Linked DNA regions of Homo sapiens. The protein of the gene in region 2 interacts with the protein of the main gene of each other region in a biochemical or structural test. Each region holds a gene or a part of one and is shown on either strand. Other genes may lie near its edges.

The links.
Region 1: of the proteins of AURKA (region 2) and NIN, one has a biochemical effect on the other in vitro, tested with the Homo sapiens proteins (2 studies listed by BioGRID).

What each region holds. Positions count from the first base shown.
Region 1 is NC_000014.9:50,828,015-50,836,545, reverse strand, and holds the start of NIN (ninein), read left to right. Parts: upstream 1-5,383; 5' UTR 5,384-5,540; intron 5,541-6,028; 5' UTR 6,029-6,082; intron 6,083-8,531. UniProt on the Homo sapiens protein: Centrosomal protein required in the positioning and anchorage of the microtubule minus-end in epithelial cells. May also act as a centrosome maturation factor.
Region 2 is NC_000020.11:56,368,890-56,375,750, reverse strand, and holds the end of AURKA (aurora kinase A), read left to right. Parts: intron 1-2,194; coding exon 2,195-2,343; intron 2,344-5,091; coding exon 5,092-5,266; intron 5,267-5,410; coding exon 5,411-5,593; 3' UTR 5,594-6,361; downstream 6,362-6,861. UniProt on the Homo sapiens protein: Mitotic serine/threonine kinase that contributes to the regulation of cell cycle progression.

The DNA.
Region 1 (8,531 bases), on a different chromosome or scaffold from region 2:
GTGCTGCAAGTGCCAAGCACACACCAGGTTTCAAAGGCTTAGAACAAAAACAAATGTAAAATATCCCATTACTACTTTTTATGTTGATTACATGTTGAAGTGATCATATTTTGGGGTATATTGGGTTACATAAAATCTAAAAATTAATTTTACATGTTTCTTAAATGTGGCTGCTAGAAAATTTTGAACTACATGTGTGGCTCACATTATATTTCTACTGAACAGAAATGTTTTAAAATGTATGGTTCTGGGTTGCCATTTCTTTTGTGTGCACATCAAACTCTAGAGAATTCAAAGTAGTCTTGCTTGGGGAAAAATGTTTAATTTTCCATTCAAAACTATTCTAACAAAAAAGTAAAGATTTCATGTCATATTTGTTAAGTGTTTAAGAGCGTATGAGGGAGGGGCCAGGCGTGGTGGTTCACTCCTGTAATCCCAGCACTTTGGGAGGCCGACATGGGCTGATCAGCTGAGGTCAGGAGTTCAAGACCAACCTAGCCAACATGGCGAAACCCCATCTCTACTAAAAATACAAAAATTAGCTGTGTGTGGTGGCGTGTGCTTGTAATCCCAGCTACTTGGTAGGCTGAGGCAGGAGAATTGCTCGAACCTGGGAGGCAGAGGTTGCAGTGGAGGAGCTGAGATTATGCCACCACTGCTCTCCCGCCTGGGTGACAGAGTAAGACTCCACCCCCAAAAATGAAAAAAATAAATAAAAATAAAATTTAAAAGAAGAGTGAATGAGGGTGCAAACGCCAATGTTTCTTAAAGTAACATTTCATTTCCTCCCCCCTTCAAATGAAGCTACAGTGGCAGTCCTTTGGCACTTGCAGTCTTTAAAACAGTAGACCATTGCCAGCATCCAGCCACATGAAAAGGGATAATTCCAAAAGTAAAGATCAACCCCCCACCCACCCATCCCATGTATACATATGCAACATCTCTTCTCCACGTGAATGCCAAGTATTTGGAAAGTACCTAAGTGCTCAGCCCATGGGATCCAAAAGACACATGTGCAATAACCACTTCCTGCTATGCTTCAGTTGCTGCGCCAAACAATGAACAGAGAGACAAGGCATTCAATACACATGAGGACTGATGATCTGGGCTGAAAGAGCAGCAGAGGGAAGATTAGAAGGTCCACATGAGCAGAGTGGAGGGAGGGTAGGTTTCCTGCAGACACTGAGGATACATACCTTTGCATTGATCAGGAAGGACCTTGAATGTCAGGAAAAAGATCTAGGACCTGAAGTGAAAAGCAATGGTCAGAATGATCAAATGGAAGCCACGTTTTAGGGAAATCATTGCTCTCTTCTTCCCATGCTGTAGCGTGTGTATGTCCCCCAACTGGAGAATGTAATTAGAGTCCAATGCCACCTAACATCACTCCTTTACTGTCTCATGAGTGCATATTTTTACCTTCCCAAAAGAGAATGATGCATTCCTCAAGGGTAAGAACCAAGGTTGATTGTTACTTCATTTTGTTTTGTTTGAGACAGGTTCTCACTCTGTCACCAGGCTAAAGTGCAGTGGTGTAATCGTTGTTCACTGCAGCCTTGACCTCCTGGGCTCAATCGATGCTCCTATGTCAGTCTCCTGAGAAGTTGGGACCAGAGGCACGTGCTACCCAGCCTGGCTAATAAAAAAAGAGGAGTAGAGAAGGGGGGTCTCACTGTGTTGCCCAGGCTGGTCTTGAACTCCTGAGCTCAAGCCATCCACCCACCTTAGCCCCCAGAAATGTTGGGATTACAGGTGTGAGCCACCATGCCCAGCCTGATGTTTATTTTGAACATTGTGTGACTTTCAGGACAGTATTAGGCACAGGGTAGGCAATCAATGCTTACTTTAAAAAAATAAATTGTATGGAATCCTGGTTTCCTCTTCTTTCATTTTCTTCATAAGGAAAATGAATAGAGAATCCTAATTTCTAATAGGTGTCCCCCAGGGGCAAAAGTGTAAATCAGTTTGCCTTCTGTCACCTTCCCTTCCCTTTCCTATACTTTTCCTCTTTCTTCCTGGGTTCTTAACCACCAACATTTTGCTGCTGGAACTCTTAAGTCCCTGACTTGTATGTCTGGAACTCAAATTTCTCCCTTTTTCCTTTCCTCATTCATTTTCCTTAGGGCCTTGGGGAGATCATTGATGTCCCTTTCTTTCACCGAGTGAGTTCCTGGGCCAAACTATAACTGATCATCTACTTTAACAATCTGGCTGTCTTTGACACAGCTCTGCAACTTGCCTGAAAACTGTCCTGCTGAGTTCAAATGGTCACAGAAATAAGAAAGATATCGATTAAAGAAGTTTAGAAGGAGCCAGGAGTTGCTACATGAGTGACAGGCTGTTTGACTATTCTGTGAATAAAAAATAGTTTATACCCAACTGTGAGTTGGGAGAGGGTAGACTATGTTTGGTTAGAGCCTTTTTTTGGCTAAGAAAAAAAAAAATAACTTTTCAGGTTCCAGGAAATTTACAAAGCCTGACTTTTTCTCTCTCTTTTTCTCTCTCTCTCTCATTTGTCGTCTTGACTCTAAACTGATAATTTCAAAATTACTTCAAGAAGAAACAAAGAGTAGGCCAGGCGTGGTGGCTCACGCCTGTAATCCCAGCACTTTGGGAGGCCGAGGCAGGATCACTTGAGGTCAGGAATTCAAGACCAGCTTGACCAACATGGTGAAACCTTGTCTCTACTAAAAATTCAAAAATTAGCCAGATGTGGTTGTGCACATCTGTAATCCCAGCTACTTGGGAGGATGAGTCAGAAGAATCGCTTGAACGCAGGAGGCCAGGAGGTGGAGGTTTCAGTGAGACAAGATTGCACCACTGCACTCCAGCCTGGGCGACACAGTAAGACTCCATCTCAAAAAATAAATAAATAAATAAATAAAAAGAAAGAAAAGAAACAAAGAGTAACTTTCTCTTCCCTGGATTATTCTTTAGTTAACGTTTTAGAGCTTTAACCATCTGAGAAAGCCAGTTCCGTACTGTGAAATATGGCAGAAAACCCTTCAAAAACTTCACGTACAAATACTTCAAGGATCCTAGGTCCTTGAACAAGGTTCTTTGTAAAGTGAGAGTAAAAATCAGAGTCAGATAAGCTGCAACAGATAAGAGTGAAGTTTTGTTTGTAAAGGGTGATAACTCTGAATAAATATTTACATTTCTTCTTTTCTCTCTTATATTGGTTATAATGTAGAACTGGAGCCTGGTTGCTACTTCTGCTGTTATTTTGTGTTTAACAGAGAAAAGATCAAGTAATGGGCTCTAAAGGAAGTCTCTGCTTTTTTTTCCCATGACTCCAGTTTGGACTAAGACTAACCATGTGCTCAGTGCAAACCAAACTGCAGGCCCATTGTGTTAAATAAATCATCTTTCTTGGTAGAGTTGCTCTTGCCAACCCACACCACGCGGTAACCATGCTCCATGCTTTCCCTCCTTTGTAGCAAGGCTGGAGGTGATCCCAGTTCCCAGTCCCAGGGCTAACTCCACCCCACTTACTCCTCTCAAGAAAGCGCATCTTGTGTTTTTCAAATTACACAACCCCCAGCAATTCTGATCTTCCTGCACAGGGAGTGAATGCCACTTCCAATATCCCCTGACCCCCAGGAATCACTGTTTTAAACTAATGATCAATATCATCCTTAAGGATTCTTGCAGGTTAAAAAGCGATGCTTGGAGAGGTAACCAGTAGGATGAGGCTTCCATGGCAGAGATTAGGTGAAACAAGAAAGACACCTCTTCATTCTTACCTTCCAAGACTGTTGGCTGTTTTAGTGCCCAGTGAGCATTATTGTCTGTCTTACAAGATGACCTCTATGTAAGTATTCTGGTAACAGGTTAGCTATCCTCTTAATGAACTGCGTGTGTGTGTGTGTGTGTTGTATCATATTACTGGATGACTGAACAACCATGCATACAGTGTATGAGTGTGTGTTTGTGTGTGTATGTGTACTTATTCAAGACTGTTTAAAAAGGAGAGAGGAGCATAAATCTCTCTTATTCTGCAGGCACGCTTATATACCGTGTTGAAAGAAGAGAGCCTGGGCTTTTGAATAAGACTGAGATGTTTAAAATTTTTAAAAAAATTTTTTGAGGTAACTGTAAATTCGCTTGAAGTTGTAAGGAATAATAGAGAGATTCCCTATAGACGCTTCACTTAATTTTTCTCAATGGTAACATTTTGCATAACTGTAGAACAATATTACAATCAGTAAATGGACATTAGTGTAGTCCAAATGTCTTATTCAAATTTCATGAGTTTCACGTGCTCTCATTTGTGAGTGTATATTCAGTTCTATGCAATTTTGCCACATATGTGATCTGCTTTTGAATCTCAGTTCTGTGGAGTTCCTGCTGTGTGATCCTGAGGAAGCTCTTTGACTTCTGGGAGATCCATTTTCCTCATCTGCAAAATAATGTCTGCCTCCTAAGAGTGATGTGAGAATTAGATAAGATAATTTCTGTCGAGTTTCTAGCGCACTGGATTCTCAAGGAATGCTGGTTTCCTCTTGTCTGTTGCTTGCTTTCTCGGTAGAAAAGGAATCACCAGTTTCCTGCTAAAATAACCAGACTTGTGGGTTGTAATCCATCAGGCGGATCCTTCAAGGGCAACACATTTAACCCTGCAGCTCAAAAAGAACCATGGCCTGGACTTGGGATCCTATTTGACTGCAATGAGATCAGAAGTGTAGGGATGGGGGAGTGAGAACGCAGACTCTGGGGTAGTAGGTAGGAGGCGATTAATATCGAGCAACTGTTGGGCTGGGAACCACCAACTCCAAGGAGTTTTCGTCCTGTGTGGCTTGCGACCGAGGGTTAGCTTCACCCGGAGAAGGCTGCACAGGGGCGGGAGCCTGTGAGGACGTGGTGGGCAGGTGCGGAAGCCAGTGTAGACCCGGCAGGAGGGTCGCGCTCGCTCTACAGGGTTCCGAGTCACTTCTACAGCCCTTCTGCCTCCTGAACACCCTTTCCAATGTTGATGGCCAATCGACACCCGAGGGCTGGGAAATCACCCCCTTAAAGTCCCGCTTGCTGAAGGCGGGGGCCCTTCCTCTGCGCGAAGACGCTGCGGCCCGAGTGTCCGCGGTGCGGGTGAGTGTAGGCGTGTTGGGAAAGAAAGGGAGGCGGACAGGCAAGGGGCGAGGGTGGCAGCGCCAGCCCCAGCTCGGTGGCGACCTCGGGGCGCCAGCCTCCTACACCCGCACCCGGAGCCCCGGCGTTTCTAACTTCAGATCTCGGAGGCGGGCGCTCGGAGCGGGAGGGCGCGTCTGCGAGGGCTCAGGCGGCGCCGCCCGCTCCTCCCTCCGCTGCCTGAGCCGCGCGGGCCGCAGAGGAGGAGCCGCGCCGGGGCCGGCGTCGCCCTGACTCCTCCTCCCCGCGCGGGCCCGGCCCTTCCTCCCCGGCGTCCAGAGCTCCGGGTGGCCGCGGCCGAGCCGGGAGCCGAGCGCGCTGGGCGCGGCCGTCCCGCTGCCGCCGCCAAGCCCGGAGTGCGCCAGCGGCCATGGTTCCCGCGGCGGCGCCGGGCGCCTGAGCCCCGGGACGCAGTAAGTGGCGCAACCCCGGGGACCCGGACCCACGGCCTGGGGGTGCACGGAGGCCTCGCGCTGCCCCCGCGCCGTCGGCGAGGCCCTGAGAGCCCGGAGCGAACTGGGCACCGGATCACTCGGGGGCTTCCCATTTGGGGTCCGGGGCCAGCGGGGCGCAATCCCTGCGGGCCGGGAGGAAGCAGCGGCCGGGCGGGAGGACGAGGCGGGGACGGGGCTGCTTCGGAGGCGGGAGGAGGGGCCGGTCCCGGAGGCGCGGGCTGCGCGGGCGGGGGCGGGCCGGCGGGGGCGGGGAGGATGCGCGCTGCAGCCCGCGGCCCCCGAGAGCCGCGCTTTTGTAAGAGCTGGCCCCTTACATATGGAAATGACGCTCACGCGGGTCCCCATTCGCGTCCTTTTGAAGGACGCCCGCCCGGAACCGCTGCGCCGGCTGCGAAGTATTGTCCCGTTTCTCCAGCCCTAACAAAGCGTCCTCCTTCGCTTTGCAGAGCGCTGGAGGCGGGCTGCCGGCTGTGCGGGCGCTCCGGAGAGACCGACAGAAGGTAGGCGAGGGCGGCGGGGCCGGGGGAGCGCGCTGCCTGCCCACACAATGGGCTGTCTGAGGTTTCTGGTAGTGGCGATGGGCAGGCGAGTTGAGGACGCATCGCAGGTGGCCAGGGACTTGGGAGGCGCGCTTGTCCTGCGGCCGCACCTCCGCTTCCCCGCGCGGCAGCACCGCTGGGTTTGGGCACTTCCAGTACCCCCGACGCCCCGGCCGCCTGCCCGGAGCTGAAAGCCGCTTCTGTGCTTTGACCGAGAGCAGGCTTGAGTCCCCGAGGGAGCAGAAGGGGTGGTGGTTCCGTTGGCATGTGCCGCCCGTACAGCCTTGTGATTGAGACGCTGCAGAGGAAACTGCATGGGGAAATCCGAGGTGTTAGCCTGGGCTGTCTGAGTAGCGGAGAGCTGCTTGGAGCCCGGAAAGTGGAGATTTTTGGAGGTGTGCGGGGTCGATGCGCGTAAACAGTTTCCCAGTATAATGCCCAGGAGAAGGGGAAAGAACAAAATGACATTTGGTTATTGCCTAAAAGGTGTGGCATGGAGGTATGGAGTGTCGGGGAAGGAAGCTTCCAGCGGCTAGGCTTCTGTAGCTACCGAAGCGGCCCCTGACAGAAGGACACTAGGTGATGGGAACAGTCACTGCTTCCAGCTCTCGCTGCGAAGTTAAAAGAGATAGAGACGGAAAGAGGCAATTTCCCTAACCCCAGCCCTGACAACCCGAGGTGAAGGCACCAACAAAATGGGAGCTGGAAAGACTGCCCTACCATATATCATGTTTCCAGACAACTTGGATATTATGAGATCTGCTTTCTGCTCCTAACTAGGACAGATCCTCTCCTGGTGTTGAGGACTTCTAAGATGGGCTTGCCATACAGCTCAACTCCTGAATTTATTACATCGAAACAGATTGCGTAGTTGTCTTTTGTGACTGACATGGTAGCTTTGTAGGATGAGAATCCTGATAAAGTCCATCCTGACACATGAGGGAAGCCCCTGGAACCACGACGTTTCTCAGTTAGGTCCCCGTAAACACCATAACATACACACATGTTTGCATGATTCCGGAGGCTTGATGATCTAACAAGGAAAATTCCTTTTTTCTGTCAGTTTAATTTTACCTTGAGTCTTCTCTCGTGGTGAGCATATTATATAGGTGGCTGACCTGGAATATTGGTGGCTCTTGCTCCGGAGTTGAAGGGAGCTGAGGATTTCCAGAGTGTGTATAGGAGGAACATTACAGGCTGGCTGAAAAACGAGTTTGTGTGTTGTGGTCTCTTCAGCTATTGTCAGTGTCCTTTGGGAGGTGATGTGAACTGCCCGGGAATTTGTTTGCAGATTTGTTTATTTTCCCTGTTCTCTGGTGATTCTTTAGAGGGAAGCATTCTGCAGAGTGGGGAAAAGGTAGGATGAATGTTCCACAGGGTTGGACATCGGCAAAGTTATTACCAATACAGGGAAAGGCTTCACAGGGGGCAATAGAGAGGAAGCCATCATACAGTCTGCATTAAAATGTCAAGGATCAGTCATTTTAATAGGCACTTGCTCAGAATGGCGTGGGGTTCTTTTTTCTTATTTCTTTTTCATTTTAGATGTGTAATGACCCTTAATATCAAAAGATGTTAACTGTCACAGAGGGGGAGAATAGGGCTCCAGTGAATTCTGAACAGCCAATCTTAATGTAATAGGCAGTATTCTTATCATGAGTCAAATGTTCAAATAAATTGTTTTAAATGTCACTGCAAATGACTTTCTAAACTAACATTTCAACTATCTTGATGCTTCCATTTTATGTTGATAATGAAAATGCATTTTATCAGTCTTACATTGATAAAGGGTGGGCAAGCTTAGCCAGAGCATTTTAGAAGGATTTAAACAGCGTGAAGCCTTTTTAGAAGGCTTATTTTTATAGATGCCAATTCATTTGTAAGCCAATAAATTATCTGGTTTGAATTCTAGCTATTGAACTTGCATCTGTTGGGCAGGGGCTTATGGAGAGACTTAGTGAAGCTTGCAAAAAGATTTTTATCCTATTTATGAATAAAATAGAATTTTGAAAAGATTATGAGATTCTGAAAGTGAGCATCCTTGTTTGAAATTAGGACACTTCTTTATTGCAATTTAAGTCAGCAATTAACCATTTATTCAAGCTTTTGGATGGAAAAATTACAAAGCATCTATCTATACCCTAATTCTCACTTTAAAAACAAAGTTGGGAAAATATTGTTCATAGACGTGAGAAGAGAAGATCACCTTCACTTACACCTCAGGGTACCATACTCATAGCCTCAGGCATCCTAAATTAATGTGAGTCAATATGGCTTAAGAAGTGGAAGTTGTTATAAGCTTTCTCCTTTTTTTTTTTTTTTGTAACAAACATGCAGCTCTGTTTTCTGCTTCTGTAATTTACTTAGTAGTTGATTACAGGTTACTGAATGCACATTGTGCCAGGCTAAT
Region 2 (6,861 bases):
TGTGTGCAATTAAAGCATCAGCAACTCAAAGTTGGTGGTCAGAAGAGCAGCTTTCTTTGTATTTGCCTTCAGTTTATTGTGGTCTGAATTTTGATCTCCGGTTTTGGGCTGAAAGAATGAAAAGTGTTTATTCTGACAGTGACATTTGGTTTTTACTCATCTGTTTAGTAAACCTTTTTGATGTAAAATAATGTTCAATCCTGTCTAGAAATTGCTGTAGAAAGCAAACTCTTCTCAAACTTTAGGCAGAGCTAAATATATTTTTTCAATATTCAAACAGTTATCTGTATGTTAAAATAAATTCTGGGCCAGGCATGGTAGCTCACGCTTGTAATCTCAGCACTTGGAGAGGCCAAGGTGGGAGGATCACTTGAGGTCAGGAATTAGCGACCAGCGTAGGCAACATGGGGAGACTGTCTCTACAAAAAAAAAAAAAAAAAAAAGAAAGATTAAAAATTAGCTGGGCATGGTGGCACACACCTGTAGTCCCAGCTACTCGGAAGGAGGCTGAGGTGGGAGGATTGCTTACGGCCAGGAGTTCAAGGCTGCAGTGAGGTATGATCATGCCATAGCAATCCAGGCTGGGTGACAGAGTGAGACCCTGTCTCTTAAAAATAAATAAGTAAATACATACATACTGGACTTGTTTGCTAAATCTTAGCGATAGGGACTGTAAAACTTTTCTTTTTCTTGCTTTTTTTTGAGACGGAATTTTACTCTTGTTGCCCAGGCTGGAGTGCAATGGCATGATCTCGGCTCACTGCAACCTCTACCTCCTGGGTTCAACCAATTCTCCTGCCTCAGCCTCCCGAGTAGCTGCGATTATAGGCATGCACCACTACACTTGGCTAATTTTTGTATTTTTAGTAAAGACAGGGTTTCACCATGTTGGTCAGGCCGGTCTCGAACTCCTGACTTCAGGTGATCCACCTGTCTTGGCCTCCCAAAGTGCTGGGATTACAGGTATGAACCACTGCACCTGGCCAGGAAAACTTTTCTTACAAGATGGTAATTCGGTCGGGTGCAGTGGCTCATGTCTGTAATCCTAGCACGTTGTGAGGCTGAGATGGGAGGATCACTTGAGGCCAGGAGTTTGAGACCAGCCTGGTCAACATAGTGAGACCCCCATCTCTATTAAAAAAAAAAAAGATAGTAACTTAAGGAAATAAAATTAACAAAAGGACTGATTTCTTATGTACTTCTATGCTGACTTAGTGTAACCCAAAATTTAACATGCTATTTAATATGTCAGTGCAACTGCTTTTTAGTTTCTGTTTATTGTTCAGGATAATTTTTTCTCCTGATATTCTTGAAGTAAATTTTTAGCTTTAAACAAATTCTTCTGTCACAGAATGACCTTGGTTTTAAAAAAGGGAATTGACTATACTTGCAAAGTTCATTTTTTTTTTCTAAAAAAGAAAAAGGCAGTATTTACACATCTGAATCCTTAATTTGTACCAGTTCTTCAGCACTGTCTTACTTCCTGGCTGCAGGGCCATTTGTTGCCGTATGGTGTTGTAACTTTAGGTTGGTGCAAAAGTAACTGTGTTTTGCATTGACATGGCACCAGCCTAAGAGCTAGCTCTAACTGGCTGAATGTCTTTTCTGACTTTCAACATCACACCAGCTGTATTAGCAGAGATGACTAAGCATTGGGTAATTTCACTTCATGCTAACCACTATAAATTGGTTCAGTTGATGTGTGTGTGTGTGTGTGTGTGTGTGTGTGTGTGTAGACTCCTATATAATTTCTACAATCCTTGCTTTAAAACCTGCAAAATGTATTTTTTGTTTTGTCTTTTCCTTTTTGAGACAGGGTCTCCTTCTGTCACCCAGGCTGAAGTGTGATCATGGCTCACTGCAGCTTTGACCTCCTGGTCTCAAGCAATCCTCCTGCCTCAGCCTCCCAAGTAGCTGGGACTACAGGCATGCACCATCACGCTCAGCTAATTTTTAAATTTTTGTAGAGATGGAGTCTTGCTATGTTTCCCAGGCTGGTCTTGAACCCCTGGGCTCAAGTGATCCTCCCACCTCAGTCCCCCAAAGTGTTGGGATTATAGGTGTGAGCCACTGTGCCTGGCCAAAACCTGCAAACCATGTTAAATCTATGTTGTGTTCCTTTCGGAAGAGATGTCTAATATTAACTTGTGTTATATAAAATCTAAAACATAGGCTTTCAATATTGTTTTAACAGTATATAACAGAATTGGCAAATGCCCTGTCTTACTGTCATTCGAAGAGAGTTATTCATAGAGACATTAAGCCAGAGAACTTACTTCTTGGATCAGCTGGAGAGCTTAAAATTGCAGATTTTGGGTGGTCAGTACATGCTCCATCTTCCAGGTATGTAACTTTAGAGGTGGAAGTTGTTTGGTTTACCAAAGCCCTGGGAGCTAACCGTGAGCTAAATGTAAAATATTTCAGTGTAGATTTTGTGCTGTAAGAGGGGTAGGTGGCTAACCCAGAAGTACTTTGGAGTAATTTAGGCTTAATAATAAACTAGGGTTTGCAAGAAAGTGTTATTCTGTGGAGATTTGGGGCTATTAGCAGTGTTCTAGGCCTAGGGTTGAAGATGCTTAATGTCCTTAGAGGCTAATGAAGGGATGAATGAGTCAACAGATAGGACACGTATATGACAGAGGTGAAGTGCCCACATGTTGAGTGGGAGGAACTCTTCACCTCTGCTGCTTCCTGGATGAGGAGATGGGGAGATGGTTCAGAGGACAGCACTGACAAAGATCTAGAGCTCAGAGTGCAGGCCATATCAGGGAACTTGAAACACTAAATTAGTTTGGTGGTGCTTTGAGGGCAGTGGTGAGAGATTCTCTTCAGTCTGCCTCTGTCAATAGTAGGGATAGTCCTTTCTTATCCCCTGTCACAGCTGAAGCAGAGATGTCAGTCTCAAAACAATTCAAATCTTAGCTTTCCAAGTGAACTACAATATCTTTACTGTTTTAAATTTGAGTTTAAATAAGCTTTGAAACTTCACATGAAGTGGGGCATTTTAAAACATATATCTACCGATGAAGTTTTGTCAACTTTGGAGGAGGACTCAAATTATAGCCAAATGACTTAAAAATCAAGCTAGTTAAAAAAAAAGTATAGCCTAAAATAGAATATGAGGGAGAAAACCTTTGCTTTTGTTACAGAGCACTTCTAATTGTTCCAGCAATGCACTGAATCTGCTATTGCAGTCTTTTTTTTTTTTTTTTTTTTTAAACTGGTTGTCATTAGTGGGAGCTGTTATCTGGTGAGACAAACCAGAATAAAGACTTACAGGCTTCATGGAATCGCAGAGTTAAACTGTATCTTAACCGGTTGAATTGTGATAGAAAAGATGGCTTCTTGCTTTTTGAAAAGATTACTTACATAACCGATAGTCACTTCACTCCAAATCCCAGATGTTAATCATCATCATTTCCTGGTTATTGCCTCAGTTTGAGAACCCCCGATTCAGTCCGTCGGTGCTGATGGAGGGGTTAGATGACCAGAGTGGTAGCTTCTTAATCCTACGTCACAATTCAGTGGTGAGTGACTGTTTGTGTGCTCAGTGGGTGCCAGGCCTGGCTGAACACAGCACCAGGGCTGTGACCACGTAAGCCTCCATGGTGAAGAGCAGCTGATAACAAAGCAACACGAACCCACACAGACTGTTCTGGCTTGCTGTCTGCTGTTCCCAGCTTTTTTCCAACCTTCGTTAAAAAAACCTAAACCGATAAAAATGCGGAATTGGTAGTTGATGGCATACCTGTCTATACAGTGCCTACGTTCAGCAGTTTTTCCCATTTAGTCAGAAGGGCTGCATCTGCTTTTTTAGTGAACACTTGAAAATACGTTGCAAACATCATGATGCTTCAACCTTAAGCACTATAATAGAATGCATTTCCTAAATAAGGATATTCTCCTATATAACTAGAACCATGATCACTCCTAAGAAAATTAACAGCATTGTCAGTATCTAATATTTAGTCCACATTCAGATTTCTCCTATTGTCCATGACATCTTATAGCTGGTTTGTAAAATCAGAACTCAACCAAAGCCCATGCTTTGTATTGGACTGTCTATGTGGTTGGATTGTCTCTGTGGTTGGACTGTCTCTGTGGTTGGACTGTCTCTGTGGTTGGATTGTCTCTGTGGTCTAAAGCCAGACCAGTCTCCCACTTTAAAGAGGACTTTTCTGATTGTGTTGCCACTTAACTTGGACCTTTATTCCCCGTATTTGCTGAAAACTGGAATGTAGGTCTCAGGTCCTGAAGAGATTCAGGTTAAGAAAATTTTTTTTTTTTTTTGAGACAGAGTCTCGCTCTGTCACCCAGGCTGGAGTGCAGTGGTGCGATCTTGGCTCACTACAAGCTCGCCTCCCGGGTTCACGCCATTCTTCTGCCTCAGCCTCCTGAGTAGCTAGGACTACAGGCGCACACCACCACACCCGGCTAATTTTTTGTATTTTTAGTAGATACGGCGTTTCACCATGTTAGCCAGGATGGTCTCGATCTCCTGACCTCGTGATCCGCCTCCCTCGGCCTCCCAAAGTGCTGGCATTACAGGCATGAGCCACTGCACCCAGCCAGGTTAAATATTTTTGGCAAGAGTACTTCATAGGCCACCCTCAAAATTTCAGCATCACTCGTACCAAGTATCTATCACAAGGCAGCATGTGTCTACATCTCCACCCCAGTGCTGTTACAGTGGGACAGTTTCTAGTGTATTGTCATTGCGACCAGGCTTTTAAGATTCTTAGCATATCTGTAATATCCACATGCAGATGTAGAATCCAAATCGTATTTACAGAGAACTTTGCATGGCAGCTTTTATATGGTAGTGATACATTCAGTTTCTTACATTCTAGATTATTCAGGGAGGTTCTGGAGTTGGACAGATTTGGGGTTAAGCCTGATGGCTAGCTGTGTGACCTTACACACCTCGCTTCATCTGTTTCCTATGGGAATTTATAATAGTAGCTACTTCCTAGGGCACAGGATCTGGCCCAGGGGAAGACCTCAGTGTTAGTGGACTCTTTAATGATTGTTAGCAGCTGTTGTGATCATAAAACGAGAAGCACATCAACCTGAGCCTCCCTCCGTTTTCAGGAGGACCACTCTCTGTGGCACCCTGGACTACCTGCCCCCTGAAATGATTGAAGGTCGGATGCATGATGAGAAGGTGGATCTCTGGAGCCTTGGAGTTCTTTGCTATGAATTTTTAGTTGGGAAGCCTCCTTTTGAGGCAAACACATACCAAGAGACCTACAAAAGAATATCACGGGTAAGACGCAACTGAAAAGGACCCAGCACATCTGCTGGAATTCTTTCCTTATCAGCCTGAACTGCAGGCCAAGATCCGAACATCTATACTATTTGATCTCTCTAACCTGTGTTTTGTGATATTTTATCATTTGTTGTACTCCAGGTTGAATTCACATTCCCTGACTTTGTAACAGAGGGAGCCAGGGACCTCATTTCAAGACTGTTGAAGCATAATCCCAGCCAGAGGCCAATGCTCAGAGAAGTACTTGAACACCCCTGGATCACAGCAAATTCATCAAAACCATCAAATTGCCAAAACAAAGAATCAGCTAGCAAACAGTCTTAGGAATCGTGCAGGGGGAGAAATCCTTGAGCCAGGGCTGCCATATAACCTGACAGGAACATGCTACTGAAGTTTATTTTACCATTGACTGCTGCCCTCAATCTAGAACGCTACACAAGAAATATTTGTTTTACTCAGCAGGTGTGCCTTAACCTCCCTATTCAGAAAGCTCCACATCAATAAACATGACACTCTGAAGTGAAAGTAGCCACGAGAATTGTGCTACTTATACTGGTTCATAATCTGGAGGCAAGGTTCGACTGCAGCCGCCCCGTCAGCCTGTGCTAGGCATGGTGTCTTCACAGGAGGCAAATCCAGAGCCTGGCTGTGGGGAAAGTGACCACTCTGCCCTGACCCCGATCAGTTAAGGAGCTGTGCAATAACCTTCCTAGTACCTGAGTGAGTGTGTAACTTATTGGGTTGGCGAAGCCTGGTAAAGCTGTTGGAATGAGTATGTGATTCTTTTTAAGTATGAAAATAAAGATATATGTACAGACTTGTATTTTTTCTCTGGTGGCATTCCTTTAGGAATGCTGTGTGTCTGTCCGGCACCCCGGTAGGCCTGATTGGGTTTCTAGTCCTCCTTAACCACTTATCTCCCATATGAGAGTGTGAAAAATAGGAACACGTGCTCTACCTCCATTTAGGGATTTGCTTGGGATACAGAAGAGGCCATGTGTCTCAGAGCTGTTAAGGGCTTATTTTTTTAAAACATTGGAGTCATAGCATGTGTGTAAACTTTAAATATGCAAATAAATAAGTATCTATGTCTGTGTGGAGTGCTGTGTAATTCTTTCCACCATCTGTTCATTGTTGGCCTGGAAATGAGCAGGGGCTGAGAGGAGCAGGTCTCGCCCTCATCTAGTCCTGCCTCTTCTGGTCTCTCCTGTTGGGTGTACTCCTAATACTTCATTATATATATTGTTTATATATTTGTCATATCTTTGTCATCTGTCCATCGACTAAAGATACGGTGAAAGTGACTGTGATGAAGGAAAAGTAGAAGTGTTGAACTTAGAGCTAGTAGAGAAATCTGCTTGCATGGCCAATGCTCAGTGCAAGAAACTGGACAGCAGGTATGTCAGGATATGTCATAACAAAGTGGCCAATATAGAGAAACTTAAAAACATGACTCAGTAAAACTGCAGCTGCCAGCCCCCTTGGGACAAAGGGGCTTCTGGTTCTCATAGTCTTGAGCTGAACTGACTTTGACCTTCCCAAATAGTTCATGTGCCACCCTCCCAAGCTATAGTTATTATCACGTGACTGAC